Homo sapiens: one gene and its partners. The protein of the gene in region 3 purifies or fractionates together with the protein of the main gene of each other region. This does not show direct contact. Each region holds a gene or a part of one and is shown on either strand. Other genes may lie near its edges.

Evidence for each region. Proteins that work in one complex are often made in the same cells at the same time.
Region 1: the proteins of GPR35 (region 3) and KTI12 purify together in Homo sapiens (affinity purification with mass spectrometry; 3 studies listed by BioGRID and IntAct, with this or other methods). This does not show direct contact.
Region 2: the proteins of GPR35 (region 3) and POTEE purify together in Homo sapiens (affinity purification with mass spectrometry; 3 studies listed by BioGRID and IntAct, with this or other methods). This does not show direct contact.

What each region holds. Positions count from the first base shown.
Region 1 is NC_000001.11:52,031,581-52,038,285, reverse strand, and holds KTI12 (protein KTI12 homolog), read left to right. Parts: upstream 1-4,475; 5' UTR 4,476-4,524; coding exon 4,525-5,589; 3' UTR 5,590-6,183; downstream 6,184-6,705.
Region 2 is NC_000002.12:131,205,513-131,212,557, reverse strand, and holds the start of POTEE (POTE ankyrin domain family member E), read right to left. Parts: upstream 3,023-7,045; 5' UTR 2,739-3,022; intron 1,531-2,738; 5' UTR 1,375-1,530; intron 1-1,374.
Region 3 is NC_000002.12:240,620,644-240,628,499, reverse strand, and holds the start of GPR35 (G-protein coupled receptor 35), read right to left. Parts: upstream 3,021-7,856; 5' UTR 2,932-3,020; intron 1-2,931. UniProt on the Homo sapiens protein: G-protein coupled receptor that binds to several ligands including the tryptophan metabolite kynurenic acid (KYNA), lysophosphatidic acid (LPA) or 5-hydroxyindoleacetic acid (5-HIAA) with high affinity, leading to rapid and transient activation of numerous intracellular signaling pathways.

The DNA of each region.
Region 1 (6,705 bases), on a different chromosome or scaffold from region 3:
CAAGAGGCAGCAGATGAATTCTCAGACACCGTTAAGAAAATCATTGAAGAGAAAGGATATCTGCCTGAACAGGTGTTTAATGCAGATTAAGGTACCCTACTCTGGAAAAAAAAAGCCACAAAGGACATTAATAGTAAGGAAGACCAACCTGGGCAACATGGGAAACTCTGTCTCTACAAAAAGTACAAAAATTAGCTGGGTGTGGTGGCACACACCTGTTGTTCCTGCTACTCAGGAGTCTGAGGTGGGAGGATTGCTTGAGCCTGGAAGATTGAGGCTGCAGTTAGCCATGAGTGCACCACTGAACTGTAGCCTGGGCAACAGAATAAGACCCTATTTCAGTTTTTAAAAAGGAAAAAAAAAAATAGGAAGAGAAGCAAGTACCAACATTGAAGGCAAGAAGAGACAGGCTAACTCTACTCTTTTGTGCAAAAAAACCCAGCACTTTGGGAGGCAGAGGTGGGACGATTACCAGAGCCCAGGAGTTTGAGTCAAGTTTGTCATCAGAACTGCCCTTGTCTATAAAGCTGTTAACCTCCAGCCTCGAAGAGCAAAGATAAACACCAGCTGCCAGTGTTTAGGTTGTGCAATAAGAAGGCTTAGACAACAAGAACCCTTTTTCTGGATTGGTTCCATCAATGCTTTGTCCCTGAAGTCAGGAAGTACCTTGCCAGTAAGAGACTACCTTTTAAAGTTCTTTTGATGTTGGACAATACTCTGGCCACCCAGAGCCCCATGAGTTCAGCACCAAAGGCAAATTAAAAAGTCTATTTGCGGCTGGGCCCAGTGGCTCATGCCTGTAATCCCAGCACTTGGGAGGCCGAGGTCGGGGGATCACCTGAAGTTGGGAGTTCCAGACCAGCCTGACCAACACGGAGAAACCCAGTCTCTACTAAAAATACAAAATTCGCCGGGCGTGGTGGCACATGCCTGTAATCCCAGCTAATCAGGAGGCTGAGGCAGGAGAATTGCTTGAACCTGGGAGGTGGAGGTTGCAGTGAGCTGAGATCGTGCCATTGCATTCCAGCCTAGGCAACAAGAGTGAAATTCTGTCTCAAAAAAAAAAAAAAAAAAAAAAGGTGGTCTATTTGCCTCCAAACACAATATTTAAATCAGCTACTACATCAGGGGGTGATAAGGACCTTTAAGGTTCATTACACACAGTACTCTCTAGAAAACAGATTGTCAAAGCTATGGAAGAGAACTGCAATAAAGAGAACATCATGAAAGTTTAGGAGGATTATATCGTTGAAGATGCCATTGTCGTTATAGAAATAGCTGTGAAGACCATCAAGCCTGAAACAATAAATTCCTGCTGGATAAAACTGTGTCCAGATGTACACAAGACTTCACAGGGTTTATGACAGATAATCAAAATCATGAAAGAGATTGTGGATATGGCAAAAAAAGGTGAGGGGTAAAGGGTTTTAAGATATGATCTTGGATAAATTCAAGAGCTAATAGACACCAAACCAGAGGAATGAACAGAAGATAACTTGATGGAGATGAGTGCCAGATGATGAGGAAAAACACGTAGAAGAGGCAGTGCCAGAAAACAGATCTGGCAGAAGGTTCTAATTATTTAGAGCTGCTTTTGACTTATTTTACAACATGGACCCTTCTAAGATATGTGCCCTGAAACTAAAGCAAAGAAAAAAGATTGGTATTGTATAGAAACATTTTTAGAGAAATGAAAAAGCAACAAAATCAGACAGAAATTATATTTCCATAAAGTTACACCAAGTGTGCCTGCCTGTTCTACCTCCCCTTCCACCCTCTTCTGCCTCTGCCATCCTGAGACAGCAAGACCAACCTCTCCTCTTCCTCTTCCTCCTCCTCCTCAGCCTACTCAGTGTGAAGACAAGGATGAAGACCTTTATGAGTATCCATTTCCACTTAATGAATACTAAATATATTTTTGCTTCTTTATGATTTTCTTTTTCTTCTTTTTTGCCCCCCTGCTTCCTGGAAAGATTTTCTTAATAACATTTTCTTTTCTCTAGTTTACTTTATTGTAAGAATACAATATATAATATTACATTCAAAATATGTGTTAACTGAATATATTATTAGTAAGGCTTCCAGTCAACAGTAGGCTATTAATAGTTAAGTTTTAGGGAGTCAAAAGGTATATGCTGATTTTTGATGGTGTCAGGGGTCAGTGCCCCTCATCCTGGGGTTGTTCAAGGGTCAGCTGTACTAAGTGCTACTGTGCATTAGGCATTAAATTATGCAAATCAACTCATTTAACTCTCACAACAACTTTTTGAGATTGGTATTATTGTTATCTTAATTTTAGAGATGAAAAAAGTAAGGCACCGTTTTTTCTAAGTTTACTAAAATAACTTGCCCAAGAGCACACAGCTAGCAAGTGGCAGACCCAAGCACTCTGGCTTCAGAGCCTGCTCTTTAAACCTGTATACCATACTGCCTGCTAGAATCAAGTTGAATAGTCTGTAAAGTCTCAAGTAGGTTTAGTTTATGCACAGACAATTCAGTGCATAAGGAGGAGGAAAAGGCAGGGCAGGGGAGGGAAAGCTAAGCACTGGTCTGTGTTTACTTTTTTTTTGTTTGAGACAGAGTTTCGCTCTTATTGCCCAGGCTGGAGTGCAGTGGTGCGATCTAGGCTCACTGCAACCTCCGCATCCCGGGTTCAAGCAATTCTCCTGCCTCAGCCTCCTCAGTAATGGGATTACAGGCACACGCTACCCCACCCGACTAATTTTTTAAAAAGTATTTTTAGTAGAGACAGGGTTTCACCATGTTGGCCAGACTGGTCTCGAGCTCCTGACCTCAGGTGATCTACCCTCTGCCTCCCAAAGTGCTGGGATTACAGGCGCGAGCCACCATGCCGGGCCTGTGTTTACATTTATTTAACCCTCACAACAACCTACAGATTGGTAAACCTGTGAAATAGCAGTTGTTATTTTATAGAAGGGGAAATTGAAGTACAGAAAAGTTACATAATTTGCCAGTAGTTACAACACTAGTAAGTGGAGGAGCCAAGACTTGAATGTTTTTTACTATACTGTACAAGAGAGATACAAAGACCCCAGTATATGTGCATCTACAATATACACACATGCACAGGCACACTCACATTTCTGCACCTACCATCCTATAGTGCTTGCTGTTTATACAAGAGATCCAACAGTTTCATGGCTCTGGGTCTCAAACCTACAATAATAGAGTTGCCAGATTGAGCAAATAAAAATAACGGATGGCCAGGCACAGTGGCTCATGCCTTTAACCCCAGCACTTTGGGAAGCCAAGGCCAGTGGATCACCTGGGGTCAGGAGTTTGAGACCAGCCTGGCCAACATAGTGAAACCCCGTCTCTACTAAAAATACAAAAATTAGCCAGATATGGTGGCGCACACCCATAGTCCCAGCTACTTGGGAGGCTGAGACAGGAGAATCGCTTGAACTCAGGAGGTGGAGGTTGCAGGGAGCTGAGATCATACCACTGTGGTCCAGGCTGGGTGACAGAGCGAGGCTCCATCTCAAAAAATAATAATAATAAAATAAAATAAAGGATGCAGGCCAGGCACCTTGGCTCACACACCTGTATTCCCAGTACTTTGGGAGGCAGAGGTGGCACAATTACTTGAGCCCAGGAGTTTGAGACCAGCCTTAGCAACATACAACCTCATCTCTAAAAAAGAAAAAATAAATAATAATAATAAATTAAAGATGCCCAGTTAAATTTGAAGTTTAGATAAGCACCAAATAATTTTAAATATGTCTATGCAATATTTGGGACACACTTAAGCTTAAAAATGTTTTTGGTGTTTATCTGAAATTCAAATGTAACTGGGCATCCTGTATTTTATCTGGCAACCCTACTAAGGAGAAAAATTCCTATTTGTCTTTCAAGTTCTAAGTCAAATGACTATTTCTACATAAAGTCTTCAGTGATTTCTCTGGGTAGTTTGTTTTTCCCTTCTGTTCTTTTATAACCTCACCTGCATCTATCCATTATAGTATTTATTACTCTGATTGTAGGCGCCTGATCCTTCCCATTCAGACCTTTTATCTTTTGTGGGGAAAGCGTTTTATGTTCATCTCTGAATTCCCAACCTTGGAGATGTTGAATGATTGAAATGGTAATTGAATAAACATTTACTGAGAGCCAGTAGGTTTAAGAGGAGGAATGAAGGAGAACCAGCATTTATTAATTGCCTTCTATATGCTAAATATAGTGCTGATTGCTTACAATATTTAATGCCCCTTAGGCCTTATTAATAAAATGGACGGGCAGTCTTTCGCTGCAGGAAGATCACATTCTCCTGAGGCCTATAACATTTGGCATAAATAACTGATGCCATTATAGTCTCTGTATCTCCTTTCTGAGAAAGCTGAACCTGGGCCTAGCTGGCGTAGAACTCCTGTTTCCATAGAAACAAGAGGGTCTGTAAAAGTCAAGGGAGACAGGAAGAGCAGTTTGCACTTCCGGCTTACGTCGGAGACGCGTACAACCCGGAAGTTGGCGCAGCGCGGTTGCCAATGGTCGCTCCCTGAGAGGATGCCGCTCGTGGTGTTTTGCGGGCTGCCGTACAGCGGCAAGAGCCGGCGTGCTGAAGAGTTGCGCGTGGCGCTGGCTGCCGAGGGCCGCGCGGTGTACGTGGTGGACGACGCAGCTGTCCTGGGCGCAGAGGACCCAGCGGTGTACGGCGATTCTGCCCGTGAGAAGGCATTGCGTGGAGCTCTGCGAGCCTCCGTGGAACGGCGCCTGAGTCGCCACGACGTGGTCATCCTGGACTCGCTTAACTACATCAAAGGTTTCCGTTACGAGCTCTACTGCCTGGCACGGGCGGCGCGCACCCCGCTCTGCCTGGTCTACTGCGTACGGCCCGGCGGCCCGATCGCGGGACCTCAGGTGGCGGGCGCGAACGAGAACCCTGGCCGGAACGTCAGTGTGAGTTGGCGGCCACGCGCTGAGGAGGACGGGAGAGCCCAGGCGGCGGGCAGCAGCGTCCTCAGGGAACTGCATACTGCGGACTCTGTAGTAAATGGAAGTGCCCAGGCCGACGTACCCAAGGAACTGGAGCGAGAAGAATCCGGGGCTGCGGAGTCTCCAGCTCTTGTGACTCCGGATTCAGAGAAATCTGCAAAGCATGGGTCCGGTGCCTTTTACTCTCCCGAACTCCTGGAGGCCCTAACGCTGCGCTTTGAGGCTCCCGATTCTCGGAATCGCTGGGACCGGCCTTTATTCACTTTGGTGGGCCTAGAGGAGCCGTTGCCCCTGGCGGGGATCCGCTCTGCCCTGTTTGAGAACCGGGCCCCACCACCCCATCAGTCTACGCAGTCCCAGCCCCTCGCCTCCGGCAGCTTTCTGCACCAGTTGGACCAGGTCACGAGTCAAGTACTGGCCGGATTGATGGAAGCGCAGAAGAGCGCTGTCCCCGGGGACTTGCTCACGCTTCCTGGTACCACAGAGCACTTGCGGTTTACCCGGCCCTTGACCATGGCAGAACTGAGTCGCCTTCGTCGCCAGTTTATTTCGTACACTAAAATGCATCCCAACAATGAGAACTTGCCGCAACTGGCCAACATGTTTCTTCAGTATTTGAGCCAGAGCCTGCACTGACCAGAGGAGGTAGGGGGGAAGCCATGGCTTCTGATCTCCACTCCACTTTATTTCTCTGGGAAAAATAGGCTGCAGGTCTCCAGAGCATATCGATGCAGTACTGTACTAGAGCTGTTGTGACTGATTCACTCAAACTTTCCTGCATACCCCTGTGCCAGGCCTTGGGTTTACAGCATAAGTTCAGACTAAAGAGAATGGAGAACTATTGTGGTGCAACCTGGCAAATCCCTCAGAGGACAGAGCTAAGGTGGACAGGGATTACCTAGATTGGATCCTACTTGGGCTATCACAGAGCATTGACCATTGGCTTCCCTCATCTGAGGCGTGGGAGAGCAGACTGGATAGATGAGAATTGTTTTAAAACAATTGTGAACAGAAACTGAAGATGGTACAGTTCTACATCTGCACCTGCCCTTTTTTCATACCACAAAAGTATTTTTTGAGTACTGTACTGACTTTTTGCTAGTTTCTATTCTGGGACCGAGTTCACAGATAAATCCATTGGTTTGTATCCTTGAGAAACTTTGTTTTTGTGGAAGTAAGAAAGTTATCTACTAGATTATTTCCTCTAATAAAATCTTTTAAAATAGTCTACTGGAATCTCTTTCACTTAATGTTCCCTGTGTAACTTCATGTAACATTTTAGGTATACTTGTCATTGTTCTGCCTTTAAGTGAAGTAGTATTTTGATAGTTCTGAGAGAGTAGATGTTTTGAGCTACTCTACAGTAATTATATTATGACAATTTCCGTAACTGTTTTGCTTCATTCTGCATTTCAAGGCAAATATCATTGTAAGCTTGTCTTTCATTCTTCATTGATTTCATTGAACAAATGGTAGGTACCTACTTTAACAGTGGCTGTGATTTTCAAAGACCAATTAGATACAGTGTTTTTGCTCTTGAGATATGTGGTGAGAAGCCGGGTGTGGTGGCTCATACTTGTAATCCCAGCACTTTGGGAGTCCAAAATCGAGGTCAGGAGTTCGAGACCAGCCTGGCCAACGTGGCAAAACCTCGTCTCTATTAACAGTACAAAAATTAGTTGGGCGTGATGGTGTGCCTGTAATCCCAGCTACTCTGGAGGCTGAGGCACGAGAATCGCTTGAACCTGGGAG
Region 2 (7,045 bases), about 110 Mb from region 3:
GGAAATGGTGGCAGAGAAAATGAAGGCAATACAGTTCACTTAATAATCTCATAAATTAGAACTTACCCCGTGACTCCTGCATAGCTCCAAATATGTGAGAGAGATGAAATGGCTGTTTGCCACCAATATTTTTATGTGATGCTTCATTTTTTGATTCTCTGAATAACTACTTATAACGCATTAGCCCATTTATGCCAGAGGCTGCAATTTTTTGAATTTTTGCACGAGTGAAAAATCAAACCTTCTAATGACCTTGAGCAGTAGGATGTAATTAACTCCCTCATGCTTACCATTCCAATAATGGAACACTAGGCATAAGTGGTTTAACACAATCATGAAAGCATAGCTATTCAAGTAACTAATTATACAACTGATTTTTTTCCTCATCCCTAAAACATAGTAAAGGACCAGTTATTTTAAAAATACAACACAGTGACAATTTTGGCTTGTTGTTTGTTAAGGCCATTGCTTGGCATAAAGAAAACAAAAAGAGGAGGAGAAACAAGAATAGAAACATGAAATAGAAGCAGCAGCAAAAGAAAATGAAGAGGAACAAGAAGATGAGAAGAATACACAGACTAGAAAAAGCAAAAAGAACAGGTGCAGGAATTAGAAGGCCTATTATGACACCTTTTATCCCCTCCCCAATTCACAAAATTTGAAAAAGTCCAAGACCATCACAACAAAAAAGAAGGAAAAAATGACCGGGAGTGGTGGCTCACGCCTATAATCCTAGCACTTTGGGAGGCCAAGGTGGGCGGATCATGAGGTCAGGTGATCTAGACCATCCTGGCCAACACTGTGAAACCCCATCTCTACTAAAAATACAAAAATAAAATTGGCTGGGCGTGGTGGCAGGCGCCTGTAGTCCCAGCTACTAGGGAGGCTGAGGCAGGAGGATGGGGTGAACCCAGGAAGCAGAGCTTGCAGTGAGCCGAGATCGCACCACTGCACTCCAGCCTGGGCAAAAGAGCGAGACTCTGTCTCAAAAAAAAAAAAAAAAAAAAAAAAAAAAGCCACACACACACACACACACAGTCACCCCCTAAATTTTGTTAAGAATGAGACAATGCTGCCACTCATGCCTGGCTCAGAAGGAGGCCACCCTCCAGAGATTGCAAGAGAAGGGGGAGGACTCCTTTCCCTAAGTGCACCTCCACCACTGCCACCGAGGCCCATGGTACAGCACCAGCAGGTTCCTCCCCACCCCAGGTCGGACTGGGCCCTGCAGTGCTCCTACTCCCCCTTCCCAGTCCCCAGACTTTCTGCCACTACCACCACTAGCACCAATGCCAATACAGTTGCTGTCGCCGTCAATGCAGCAGCCCACCCTACAAGGTTCCTACCACCTTGCCCCCGCGGGCACCCTCCTACCACTCCTGTCGAGCTGCAGTCTCCGTGGCTGCCATCAGTCACACGAGGCGAGCTGCAGAGTCACGCCACATGCAGGCTCCAGCGTACCACAGGTGATTCCTTCTCCTCCTCCTCCAGCCTGGCTTGGAGCAGCTAGACCGGCAAAGCCAGAAAAGCCTAGAATGGGATGCAGGGAGTGGTAACGTTAGAGCCTCACCTTGTCATGCTGGCCACTGGGTGGCAGGGACCAGCTTCAGCTAAGGCACTCACACCCACCCACCGAAGTCCAGCCTCTCTTTCTGGCAAAAGGTGGCCAGGAACTGGGGCGGGTGTGAGTGCCTATGCTGAAACCACCCCCATCCAGGTGCAACTGGCCAGAAATTGCTGGGCCCACCAGGGCTGCACTCCTTGGGGAGCAGGAGTAGGAGAAACTCAGACCCAGCCAGCCCTCCCCACTCAACTGCTGGTTCCCGTTCCTGACACCTCCACCCACAGTGCCCTGTTCCCACAGTCCCCCGCGATGCCCACTAATCCCCACCCGGTAGTCCCAGGTGGTCTCCCCAACACAGAGCATGGGGTGTGGGCGGGAGGTGCAGGCCGGAGAACCGCAGTGGGTGTGGGGGCCCTGCCCTGCTCAAGATTGCACGAGCAGGAACTCTGGAGTCTGGAAAAGAGAAGAGTTACCCGAAGGAGCAAGGAGACCATGGCTGTTGCTGTCCCCACCACCTCTGCAGCCGACCAACACCACTGGCAGTATAGCCCCCATAGCAACCCTAACCTGACCCCTGCCGCCGGCAGTGTAGCCCCCGGACAGCACACCCAACACACCCTGTGCCAGTTGCAGGCAGTGTAACCCCAATACCCCCCCCCAACCACCCCTTCCACAGGCAGTGTAGCACCCGATAGTGCCCACAACCTGACCCAGCCACAGGTGTTGCTGCACAAGACAGTGCCCCAAAATCGCCGCCCCCACCCCACCACAGGTAGCGCAGCTCCTGATAGCGCACCCTGAGTAAGGGCAGTGCAGCACCCGACAACACTCCTAAACCACCCCCCGCTGCCAGCATTGTAGCTCCAAATAACCACCCAAACCACTCCCTGCCCCGGGCAGTGCAGCAGAAAATAGTGCCCCTAACCCCTCCCCCGCCACCGGCAGTACACGTTAGTGCACACAACCTGCCTCCCCCCCACCACCCCCGCCACCACGGGCAGTGTAGCCCCGGACAGCCAGCCAAAACCGCCCCCCTCCACCGCCAGCAATGCAACCTCGGAGAGTGCCCCCAACCAGCCCCCTGACACAGGCAGTGCAGCCTCGGGCAGTGAGCCCCAATAGGACACCCAACCCCTGCCCCCACAGGCGGGCAGTACATCCCCGGATAACTCACCTACACCAGGACATTTCTACCACTCTGGCCGAGCTGCAGTGTCCCACGTCACCACCAAACACAGCAAGGCGAGCCCCAGGGGCTCAGGCTCCAGCCTCCAGCATGCGTCGGTGCTGCTCCCTTCTACTCGTCTTCCTGCCTGGCAGGAGAAGCTCCCGCTACTAGTTGCCCTCCTACCGCTCTGTGGACACCACCAACTGCAGTGAGCCAGTGTCCGAGGCTCCAGCCAGAAACAGGTAGCAGCCATGCCGGTTACCAAACGCCCACACTTAAGAGCCTGAAATGACCTGACGCCACCTCCGCATGCTTTACGTACTGAGGTTACGCACATGTGGTTCCCAGACTACATGTTCTGATTGGATGAGAGAAAAACCTCTAGGCCTACTCTGATTGGACTTTATTTTCATGCTGTGATTGGTTGTCTTAAGACTGGCTCTCATCCAATCAGAACATGATAATAAAGTCCAATCCAAGTAACCCTGGAGGGTTTTTCTCATCCAATCAGAACATGCAGTCAGGAATCCTCCTGTATATAACCGCGGTATACGCCTGCTGCTGAAGGGAAGTCAGGCTCTTCCACGTTCCCGTATTTTCCTGTGGAGCTGCTCAGTGCCCGGCTTAGAGGACCAGGAATGGGTAATCACCAGCCGTACGCTGGAGGCTGGAGCCGCTACACCGTGGCTCGCCTCGCTGCGACTGGTGGTAACCGCGACCGAGACGGCAGTGCGGCGGAAGCGGTAAGAGGAGGAAAAGAGTTTTGGGATAGATGGAGGGGGTAAAGAGGGTGGTTAGTGCCAAAGGGAAGAGAGGATAGTGAGCAGGAGAGCGCGTTGCAAAAAGGCGGTGGGGAAAAGATAGTGGGAAAAAAAGTTTTTGGGTAGATGGAGGGAGAAAAACGGGGTGGGGAGCGGCAGGGAGGGAAGGTTTTGCAGAAAGATGGTGGGTAAAATGTTTATGGGTAGATGGAGGAGGAAAAGAGGGTGGCAAGGGAGGAGGAAAGAGAGGGTGGTGGGGGGGAGAAACAGCGTTGAGCAGTAGAGAGAGAAGGTTTTGTGAAAAGACAGTGGGGAGAAAAGGTTTTGGGTAGATAGAGGGGGAAAAGAGGGTAACAGGTGGGGGAAGGGAAAAGGGTAGCCAGCGGGAGGAAGACAAGGTTTTGCAAAAAGATAGTGGGCAGGAAAGAAAGACGGTGGAGAAAGAAAAGACAGTGGGTAAAAAGTGTTTGGGTAGATGGTGGGGGGAAAGAGGGTAACGAGGAGGAGGAAAGAGGGTGACGAGAGGGAGCAGGGAAAGAGAGTTGGGGAAAAAATGGGAAAATAGTTTGGGGTAGATGGAAGGCAAAAAAGAGAGTGGCAAGCAGGATAGGGCAAAGAAGAGGACGAGTGGGAAGGGGGGAAGACTGTGAAAAGACAGTAGGGAATATTCTGGGGGGTGGATGGAGGGGGAAAAGGGGAGGTGAGCAGGAGTGGGGAGAAGGCTTTGCGAAAAGACTATGGGGAAATGTTTTTGGGTAGAGAAGGGAAAGAGGGTGGCAAGGAGGAGCGGGGGAAAAGACGATGAGGAAAACAGTTTTCGGGTAGATGAAGGGCGAAAAAGTGGTGAGCAGCAGGAGTGAGGAGAAGGGTTTGGGAAAAGACGGGAGAAAATGTTTTTGCTTAGATGAAGGAGCAAAAGAGGGTGATGAGAGTGGGATGGGGGAAAAGAAGGTGGCCAGGGAGAAAGGGAAAAGACGGTGGGAAAAAACAGTGGGGAAAGTGGGTAAGTGGATGGGGAAAAGGGTGGTGAGTGAGAGAGCAGAGAAGGCTTTGCGAAATGACGGTAGGGAAAAATGGTGGGGAAAAAGTTTTGGGGTAGATGGAGGAAGAAAACGGGTGGCGAGGGGGAGGAGGCCAAAGGCGGTCGGGAAAAGAAGGTGGGAAAATAATGGTGGGAGACAAAGATTTGGGGTAGATTTTTTTTTAATCAAATTATTTGTATTTTTGCTTTTGAGTAGTTATTTATATATTTTGTGTATTAGCCCCTTGGCTGATGCATAGTTTGCAAATACTTTCTTCCATTCTCTGGGTTGTTTCTTCGTTCTACTGATTTCTTCCTGTGCTTTGCAGAAGCTTTTAAGTTTTATGTAATTACATCTTTGCTTTTGTTGCTTGTGCTTTTGACAAGTTTAATGTAATTACATCTTTGCTTTTGTTGCTTGTGCTTTTGATGTCTATTTGAAAATTCCTTGTCCTAACCAGTTTCATGAAGCATTTATCCTATGTTTTCTTCTCTAGTAGTTTTATAGTTTCAGGTCCTACATTTAAATCTTTATTTTGAGCAGATTTTTGTATATGGTAAGATAACGGCCTAGATGTATTCCTGCACATGTGGGTGTTGAGTTATCCTAGCAGTTTATTGAAGAGATTGTCCTTCCCGAATGTGTGTTCTTGGTGCCTTTGTTAAAAATGAGTACGCCATAAATGTGTGAATTTATTTCTGATTTCTCTATTCTGTTTCACTTGTCTATGTCTGTCATTCCTTCGTTTCTGTTTCTCCCCCGCCCCTTTTTTTGATAGTATTATGCTGTTTTGGTATTACCATGCTTACTACAGATTTGTAGTATGTTTTGAAGTCAGGTGTGATGCCTCCAGCTTTTCTTTTTATTCCAGATTCTTTTGTCTATCTGAGGTATTTTGCGTTTCCATGTGAATTTTAGGATTTTTTTTTCCTATTTCTATGAAGAATGTCTTTTGTAATTTAACATGGATTGCATTGACTCTCTAGATCACATTGGGTGATATAGACATTTTAACAATATTCTTCTAGTGCATGGACATGGGATATCTTTCCATTTACTTGTGTCTGCTTTAATAGCTTTCATCTGTGTTTTAGAGTTTCCATTGTGGGATCTTTTGTCTTTTTGGTTAAGTTTATCCCTAGATATAATTTTTTTGGTAATGAAATAGCTTTCTTGATTTCCTTCTTAGGTATTTCACTATTGGTGCATGGGTGTGCTGATATTGTATCTTGCAACTTGACTAAATTATTTCCTGTAGGTGATTTTGTGGAATCTTTAGGGTTCTCTCTTTCTCTATGTATATATATATGATCATGTCACCTGCAAACAGAGACAGTTTGACTTCCTTTTTTCCAATTTGGATGCCTTTTATTGCATTCTCTTGTCTAATTGCGCTACCTAGGACTTCCAGTACTATGATGAATAAAAGTGGTGTAAAAGTAGCCACACTCGTTCCAGGCCTTAGAGGAAGAGTTTTAACCTTTCCCCATTGATTATGATGTTAGCTGTGGGTTTATCATATATGGCCTTTATTGCGCTATGTTCCTTCTGTACTCATGTTGTTCAGTTTTTGCCATGAAGGAATGTTGATTTTTATTTTTTTCAGCATCTACTGAAATGATTATATGGTTTTTGTTCCTGATTCGCTGAATGTGATGTCGTACATTTATTTATTTGTGTTTTATTGAATCATCCTCATATTCCTGGGATGAATCCCACTTGATCATGGCAGATCATCTTTTTATTGTGTTGTCAAGTGCAATTTTCAAGTATTTTGCTGAGGATTTTTTTGCATCTGTGTTTATCAGGGATATTTAAAATGCCTGTGGCTTTCTTTTTGTGTTGTTTCCTGGTCTGGTTTTTGTACCAGGATCATGCTGTCCTCATAGAACAAGTTTCGAAGACTTCCTTTCTCTTCACTTTTTGGGGAATATTTTGAGTAAAATTGGTATTAGCTCTTTTAAAAATGTTTGGTAGAATTCAGCAGTAAAACCATGATTCTTGTGTTTTTGTTTGACGGAAGACTTTTTATTACTGCTTTAATTATATTACTCATTATTGATCTGTTCCGGTTTTTTGTTTATCATTCTATCTTGGGAATTTGTTATGTGTCCAGAAATTTATCACTTCTCCTAGATTTTCCAACTTGTTTTTATATAGGTGTTTTTAGTAATCTCTTACAATCCTTCATATTTCTGTGTTATCACTTGCAATGTCTCATTTTTCATCTATGATTTTTTCTTTTTCTTTTCCTTAGTCTAGTTAAAGCTTGTCAGTTTTGATTTTTTTCTAAAAAATCCAGCTCTTTGTTCCATTGACTTTTTGTATTTTTTGTTTCTATTTTTAAAATTTCTTCTCTAATCTTTATGATATTTTTGTACTAATTTTAGCATTTTATTTTTCTCATTTTTCTCACTACTTCAGGTGTACTGTCAGGTTGGCTATTTGAGATCTTTCTACTTCTCTGATGTAGGTGTTTATAGCTATGCCCTTTTCCTCTTACAACTGCTTTTGCTGCATCCCACAGGAT
Region 3 (7,856 bases):
TCATTCTGTCTCCTTAGATCCCACCTCTGGTGAAGTACAGCAGATATTTGCTGACTTCCAAGTTTCAGGAGCCCTTCCCCCGAGTGCAAAGTGCTGCACGCCCAGTGGTCTCTCTCCTCCCTTCTTGAGGGTCCTGCTTGCTTTCTCTCTGATTCATGAGCAACACTTCACCCTCGTTCCAGGGACTTTTGGAGGGACCCTGAGCCAGGCCAGGCTCCGAGGACATCCCCAGAACCCACTGGAACCAATCGCTGGGATCTTCCCTTCCTGTTGGGCCTATACTCCTGTGGCAGCCCCCGCTGGGGGCCAGGAGATCCCAGAACCTGCTCAGAATCTACACCTCAGAGGCACCTGAGCTGGGCAGGCACTGTGCGTTGGGGAGGGCTCCGTGCGACTGGCCTCCTACTCTCCCCACCTGAGTACTTGAATCCACCAGAAGTCCAGGGCCAGCCTTGGGCGGTGTGCAGACCTGGAGGGGGAGGGGGTCTGCACAGCTAGAGGGCGATTCTTTTGCTGCCCCACCTTGAGTAGAGGCAGCCTGGGACCCTGCCTCGTGGGAGGTGAGGACCCGAGGGCTCGTGTGCCTAGACCCCTTCCCATTGCCCCAGCTTCCCCCATCGCTCCCCATGGCTGCCAAGGGGCTCTCAGGTCACACATACCCAGGGCTGCAACTTTCATACTAGCCTCGGTGTGGCCCAGTATTTTGTGGGGGAATGTTTAACTGCAGGCAGGCACGGTGGCTCATGCCTGTAATCCCAACACTTTGGGAGGCTGAGACAGGAGGATGACTTGAGGCCAGAAGTTTAAGAACAACCTGGGCATCACAGGGAGACCCCGTCTCTACAAAAAAAAAAAAAAAAAAAAAAAAAAAGACAGAAAATTAGCTGGGCTGGTGATGCGTGCTACTCGGGAGGCTGAGGCAGGAAGACGGCTTGAGCCCAGGAGGTTGAGGCTGAAGTGAGCTATGATCCCACCACTGCACTCCAGCCTTAGGAGACAGAGTGAAACCCCATCTCTAAGAAGAAGAAAAAAACTCTAACTACAACATTTAAATTTTCCTGTTTATAATAAAACAAACACTGAACTATTAGGGAGAAAAATGCAAATGTTGCAAGAGTTTCGAGGTGCACGTAGGCTTCGAAGAAGTGCCCTGTTCATGGGTCCTTGTCTCGCCCGTGGAGTGCCTCCCAGAAAAGTTCAGGAAATCAAGGCCCAGGCTTTAGCCCAGATGGCATGGGGCCCCTGGGAGCTAACATGGCCAGCACAGATGCCCACCTACTGCCCCAGTCCCGCACAGGAATCTGTGTCCAGGCCGTGGACCGTAGCTGGCCTCCCGCCTCAGCTCCTCAGGCCTGTCTTCCTCGACAGACACCAGCACCATCAGCCTCAGGGAGCTCCCGCTGCCGGGGACCGTGGGGATGGGGCCCTTCCACTTCCTGCCCAGGAGGCTTTGGGGATTGGAGCCAGCAGCACGCCTCTGAGGCCCCGCTTCCCCTTCTGATGACAAGGTCACCCTCGGCTTCTGCACACAAAAGCAGAAAAGTGCCCTTTGATTCTGCACTGAGTGATCCAGGAGAGAAACCTGGCCATAGACGGGCGATCCAGCCACACCAGAGCCCCTCCCCAGCCCTTCCCCCTGTCTGGACCCGGGACCCGCCCAGACCCCAGAGTGCCTGGCTGGCCTGGGATTGAGACCACAGGCCCCAACCACTGCTGAAGACGTGGGGGCACGCAGTGAGGTGCAGATCCCTGTGGCCCAGGCACCAGAGTCCCCCGTACCTGTGACCCCACTGGGCCTGGGCCCCACACAGCACACCACACCCCAGGACCCAGGATGGGGCTGTGAGTGACACGAGTTCACCAAAGTAGCTGCTCACCTCGGGGCCACAGCACGGGGTATTCTTCATTCTTGTTTTTAAATGTCACATCCCACACTCCAACAAGCTGCTACCCAGACACAGGCTCCAAGTCTTCATCAGCCTCAGCCACCCCTGAGACCCCAACAGCCTCAGCCCACCTGAGACCCCAACACAGCCTCACCTCACTGAGACTCCCCATCACAGCCTCACCCCACTCTGAGACCCCATCACAGCCTCACCCCACTCTGAGACCCCATCAGAGCCTCACCCCACTCTGAGACCCCGTCACAGCCTCACCCCACTCTGAGACCCCGTCACAGCCTCACCCCGCTCTGAGACCCCATCACAGCCTCACCCCGCTCTGAGACCCCCATCACAGCCTCACCCCACTCTGAGACCCCCATCACAGCCTCACCCCACTCTGAGACCCCGTCACAGCCTCACCCCGCTCTGAGACCCCATCACAGCCTCACCCCGCTCTGAGACCCCCATCACAGCCTCACCCCGCTCTGAGACCCCCATCACAGCCTCACCCCGCTCTGAGACCCCGTCACAGCCTCACCCCACTCTGAGACCCCCATCACAGCCTCACCCCACTCTGAGACCCCATCACAGCCTCACCCCACTCTGAGACCCCATCACAGCCTCACCCTGCTCTGAGAACCCATCACAGCCTCACCCTGCTCTGAGAACCCATCACAGCCTCACCCCACTCTGAGACCCCATCAGAGCCTCACCCCACTCTGAGACCCCCATCACAGCCTCACCCCACTCTGAGACACCCATCACAGCCTCACCCCACTCTGAGACACCCATCACAGCCTCACCCCACTCTGAGACCCCATCACAGCCTCACCCTGCTCTGAGACCCCCATCACAGCCTCACCCCGCTCTGAGACCCTGTCACAGCCTCACCTCGCTCTGAGAACCCCCGTCACAGCCTCACCCCACTCTGAGACCCCATCATAGCCTCACCCTGCTCTGAGACCCCATCACAGCCTCACCCCACTCTGAGACCCCCACCATGCCCCTGCCCCGCTGGGAGGCCCCTAGGGCAGTGGGCGGCACTGACCTGCAGGCAGCTTTGGCCTCCCGGGTGGAGTGTGTGACCCCCGCTGCCAAAGCCTGCACAGTGGCTGTCTGAGAAGGGCTGGGGGAAGTGAAGCTGGGGTGAGCCACCCCTCAGGGCTGGTCCCTGACTCTGCCCCTCCTTAAGGTGGGGGGGCGGGCGGCTGACTGACGGCAGCAGGTCAGGGGTAACAGGAGTTCCCCACTGCTCCTGCACCAGCCCCAGCTAGAGGGCGTGGGGGATTTCTGGGAGGGAAGTGGGGTGCCGGCTGCCTGTGCTGACACCTCTGAAGAGCCAGCATCCTTGCTGAGGGCACACATTTGTTCTGGAAACAGCGTGAGAGACAGACAGCAAAACCAGAGACGCTCCAGCCCCGCCCACGGAGCCTTCCTCCTCCCCAGCCCACTTCTGCCCTGTCATCTCGGAAACCTTCCCAGGGCCCAGCCCTCCCAGGGTCTGCGGTCAGCTCGCCCTCCCCAGCGCCTCATGCCCAGCCCCAAGACAGGGTGCAGCACGCACACTCATCCTGGTTCATGCAGACACGCTCCGTGGGCGCCTTCCAATACACACACACACGCTGGCACACATGCACACACACATGCACACGCCAATGCACACAGGTGAGAGGCACACGCAGGCAGGCTGGCTCCTCCCCTGCTTCCCCCCGACTTGGCCACCGGCCCCTCCTCCAAGCCCACCCCCTCAGAAGCCTACCCAGACCACCCCTATCTGGTCTAGAATATTCTCCCTGGCCCCCAACTCCTCAGCGGACATCTTCCTTCTGAGCTCATGGTGGGGGAGCCCGTAGGCCCAGGCTGCGCCCCCATGGTGCAGAGCACCCCCTTCCTGGGCCCTGTCCACCCTGAGGGCAGGAGCCTCGTCTCCTCAACGTGGGCCCCACAGCCCCTGACCACAGCCTCTCCCTCCTCAACGGCTGGGATAGGCTGGGGAGAGCTTCAGTTTCACCCCTCCCCACTTTACAGCGGTGGAAACGGACGCCCAGGGAAGGGAAGCGCTTGGCCCAGCGTCACACAGGTGGTGGCAGGTCTGAGACCAGTGCCTGGGCCTCCTGAGCCAGACCAGGGCTCTCTACCCAGAGGCACGTGAGGAAGCCCTGGCTGGGCATTGGTCCTTCTCTGCTGTCATCCCGGGCCTGGTTCCTGTCCCTTTCTTCCTGCTTCCTCCTGCTGTCCTTCCTGCCCTTCCTCCTGCTTCCCCGGCTGTCCCTCCAGGCCCAGTCCCCAGTGTGCGCCCTTGGGTTCCCTGCCCAGTCTCCATGGGCCATGATGTTCATTGGAGAGGGGCCTCATCCTCGGGCAGGAGGCTCAGATTTGGGATTTCATCCATCCCTCACTCTGGCCACAGGGTCTGGCCTCTGGGGTCAGCAGAAGGCACGGCACCTGATCAGTCCAAGCCCGGCCGCCGTCAAGCAGGGACTGGAGGTGCAGGGCACGGCATCTCCCAGGAGTGCTCCTTCCACCTCTGGCAGATCAGATGGTGCCCCAAGCAGGCCTACCCAGCCCACCAGAGCCAGGGCCCTGCAGAGCTCCCCCACCCCCCCCACCACCAGGCCAGCCATGAACTCCACCGTGCCCCCTCTGCTGGGCATCACTCCTCCCCAGCAGTGGCCTGGGGCACCCCGTCCCCACCAGGCCTGGCCTCCCTGACGTGGCCTGGCACCTGTGCTCCTCACACACTGGAAGGGAAGCCCCACTGGGCAGGGCCACATGGTCCCAGCGGATTCTTCTGGGCTGTGTGGACTTGGGGAAGAAACTGGACATTTAGAGACTCTGACTGTCTCTGGGAAGGGCCCCTTGCCACCAGGTTCCACCTGTGTACAGGAAACGCTGTCCCCAGCCCACCCCCTACCTCTCTCCATCTGCCCCTTGGCTGTCTCCGCAGGCACTTCAGGGCAGTCCCACCCAGCCTGGAGCCTGGGCCCTCGTGCTCTGCCCCCTCCCACTCAGGCAGGCCTTGCCCGGGCCCCTCCAGAGCGCTGTTTCTCTCCTAGCTCCCCGCTCACCCCCAGGGCCCCTCTCTCCCCAAAGCTGCACCCTCACGACCTGTTTGCACCCTCACGACCTGTTTGCGCCCTCACGACCTGTTTGCACCCTCACGACCTGTTTGCGCCCTCACGACCTGTTTGCGCCCTCACGATCTGTTTGCGCCCTCACGACCTGTTTGCGCCCTCACGACCTGTTTGCGCCCTCACGACCTGTTTGCGCCCTCACGACCTGTTTGCGCCCTCACGACCTGTTTGCGCCCTCATGACCTGTTTCCAGCCCTTCACCCTGTTTGATTTTATCACAGAACTTATTTTTTAAGTAACCCTTTCTGCGCACTGGGCTTGTGCTTGTGGGACTCTATCTGCTTCCTGCCCTGTCGGGGCCCTGGCACAGAGCCCGGCCTCTGTGAAGCTCGACGACCGCTCACCCACAGCGACTCCGGCCGCGGGGCTGCGAGTGCCGGGGACATATCAGGTGCTCAGTCGTCGTCGGCGCCCGGCTCAGGCACGGTCGCCTGGGGTCCTCTGCTGCTGCTCAGGCCCTTCTTCGAGGACACCCGGAGTCCCCAGGTTCGAGAGGCCAGATGGCAGGTTTCCAGTCCAGGCCAGGCCTGTTCTCTCCCTGCTGGGCAGCTTCAGACCACCTGGCCCTCTGCGGAGAACTGGCAGCCAGGGTCCTGCTGTGGGCACGGGGGCACTGCCCGGGGCCCTCCGCCCCCAGCCTCTGCTCCTGGGCAGCTTCCTCTCCGAGGCTGCCCCCTCACCCCCAAGGTTAGCCCCCTGCAGCAGCGCCAGCCCCTCCCACTTCACCCCGCTGGGCTGTATGTGTGACGCGAGGAGCTCCGAACAGGATTCCTTCCTGCCCCTCCTCCTGCTTCTCCAGCTAGAGCTGCCGGACGCCACCCCTGCAGCCCTATCTAGGGGAGCCTCTGCAGCAAGCTTGTCCAACACTCGGGCTGCGGGCTTTGAATGTGGCCCAACACAAATTTGTAAACTTTCTTAAAACATTATGAGATTTACGCAGAGACCTTTTTTTGCTCATCAGCTATCGTGAGTGTTAGTGTATTTCATGTTTGGCCCAAGGCAATTCTTCTTATTCCAATGCGGCCCGGGGAAGCCAAAAGATTGGACAGCCCTGCTTTGAAGGGAAGTCTGTGAGGCGATGTCAGGGAAGCAGGAGCCTGGGAGAGCCAGAGAAAAGCCGTTTACGTTCAGCTCCACCTTGAGACCAATGAGGCACATACCTGCCAGCCACAGCCCATGGTCATACGATGTTTACAGCTAAAGCAGCAGCCAGTGACGCCTGCGTGGACACACTTCTATGACAGCAAAGTGTCCAAGTGCCCTGGTATCCAGAACAATATATGCTTTCCAGACAACTACCCTTGGCCGGACGCGGTGGCTCAGGCCTCTAATCCCAGCACTTTGGGAGGCCAAGGTGGGAGGTTGGCTTGAGCCCAGAAGTTTGAGACCAGCCTGGGCAACATAGCAAGACCCCATCTTTACAAAAAGTAAAAAAAAAAAAAATCAGCCACGCATGGGGGTGCATGCCTGTAATCCCAGCTACTCAGGAGGCTAAGGCGGGAGGAGCACCTGAGCCTGGGAGGCAGAGATTGCAATGAGCTGAGATCGTGCTACTGCACTCCAGCCTGGTTGCAACAGAGCAAGACCCCGTGACAGACAGTTTTCTTTAAATCAATAGAATAATACATGTTAGGCACAGTTTAGCTTAGTCTTTACACAGACGAGACCCCTGTATGAGAAAAAGTTAAAGCTGGGGTGTTCCCCCTCTTGCTTTCTGACGACACCCTGCTCTGTAATGGAGCAACTTTCAATAAACCCTCTCTTCTCACCACATTCTGACTTGCCTCCACTTCCTTCCTGAGTGAGACCCACGAAGCATGTCTTGAGGTCTGAATCGAGACTCCTTTTGCAGTGAAGCTGCCATCCTAAATGAGTCGCTTGGATCCTCATGCGTCCTTTGCATAGTTTTGGTTTACTAAAACAACACATTGGCTGGGTGCAGTGGCTCACATCTGTAATCCCAGCACTTTGAGAGGCCGAGGCAGGGGGATCACGAGGTCAGGAGTTCAAGACCAGCCTGGCCGACATGGTGAAACCCCATCTCTACTAAAAATACAAAAATTAGCTGGGCGTGGTGGCGCGTGCCTGTAGTCCCAGCTACTCGGGAAGCTGAGACAAGAGAATTGCTTGAACCCGGGAGGCGGAGGTTGTGGTGAGCCGAGATCACGCCACTGCACTCCAGCCTGGGCGATAGAGGGAGACTCCATCTCAAAAATAAATAAATAAATAAATAAGAAATAAAACAACACATTACGGTTTATCTTTATGACTGTTTTTCTGGTGTCCCTTCAAGCGCTGTGCCCCCGAGGCCAGTGCCTCACTTGCCCACCCAGCAGCTCAGGCAGACCAGTGGGGTCCTCTGTGTGGGGGCTCAGTTGTGGACCCCGAGAGAGGATGTGAGTACACCTCCCTCTTCTCGAGGTTTCCCTGTCACCCTCAGCACTTTCTGTTCCCCTCTTCACAGAACCAGGTCTGGAAGTGCACGTCCTGCTGGGAAACTCCCCTCCCCCACTGATCTTGCCTAAAGCCTGGCGGTGTCACTGTGAGGGGCTGGGGACCAGGACACAGGGTCTCTGTCCTAGATGCCCTGCTTTTGTGTGTATTTGATGTTTTCCATAATAAAAGTGTATAGAGAACTGAGTGTGTGGCCACAGAGGGGCAGGGGAGGGCAAAGCCTGTCAGCTGTGGGGCAGAGGAGGTAGCGGGCAGGGGTCCTGGGGGGTGGCTGCAGAAGACTAGCACCTGTGGCCTAAGGTCCCCTCCAGCCAAGACCCCGCCCTGTGCTCAGCCTCCTGTGATGGCCCCATCCCCACAGGGGGTCCCCACAGCCCAAGTGCAG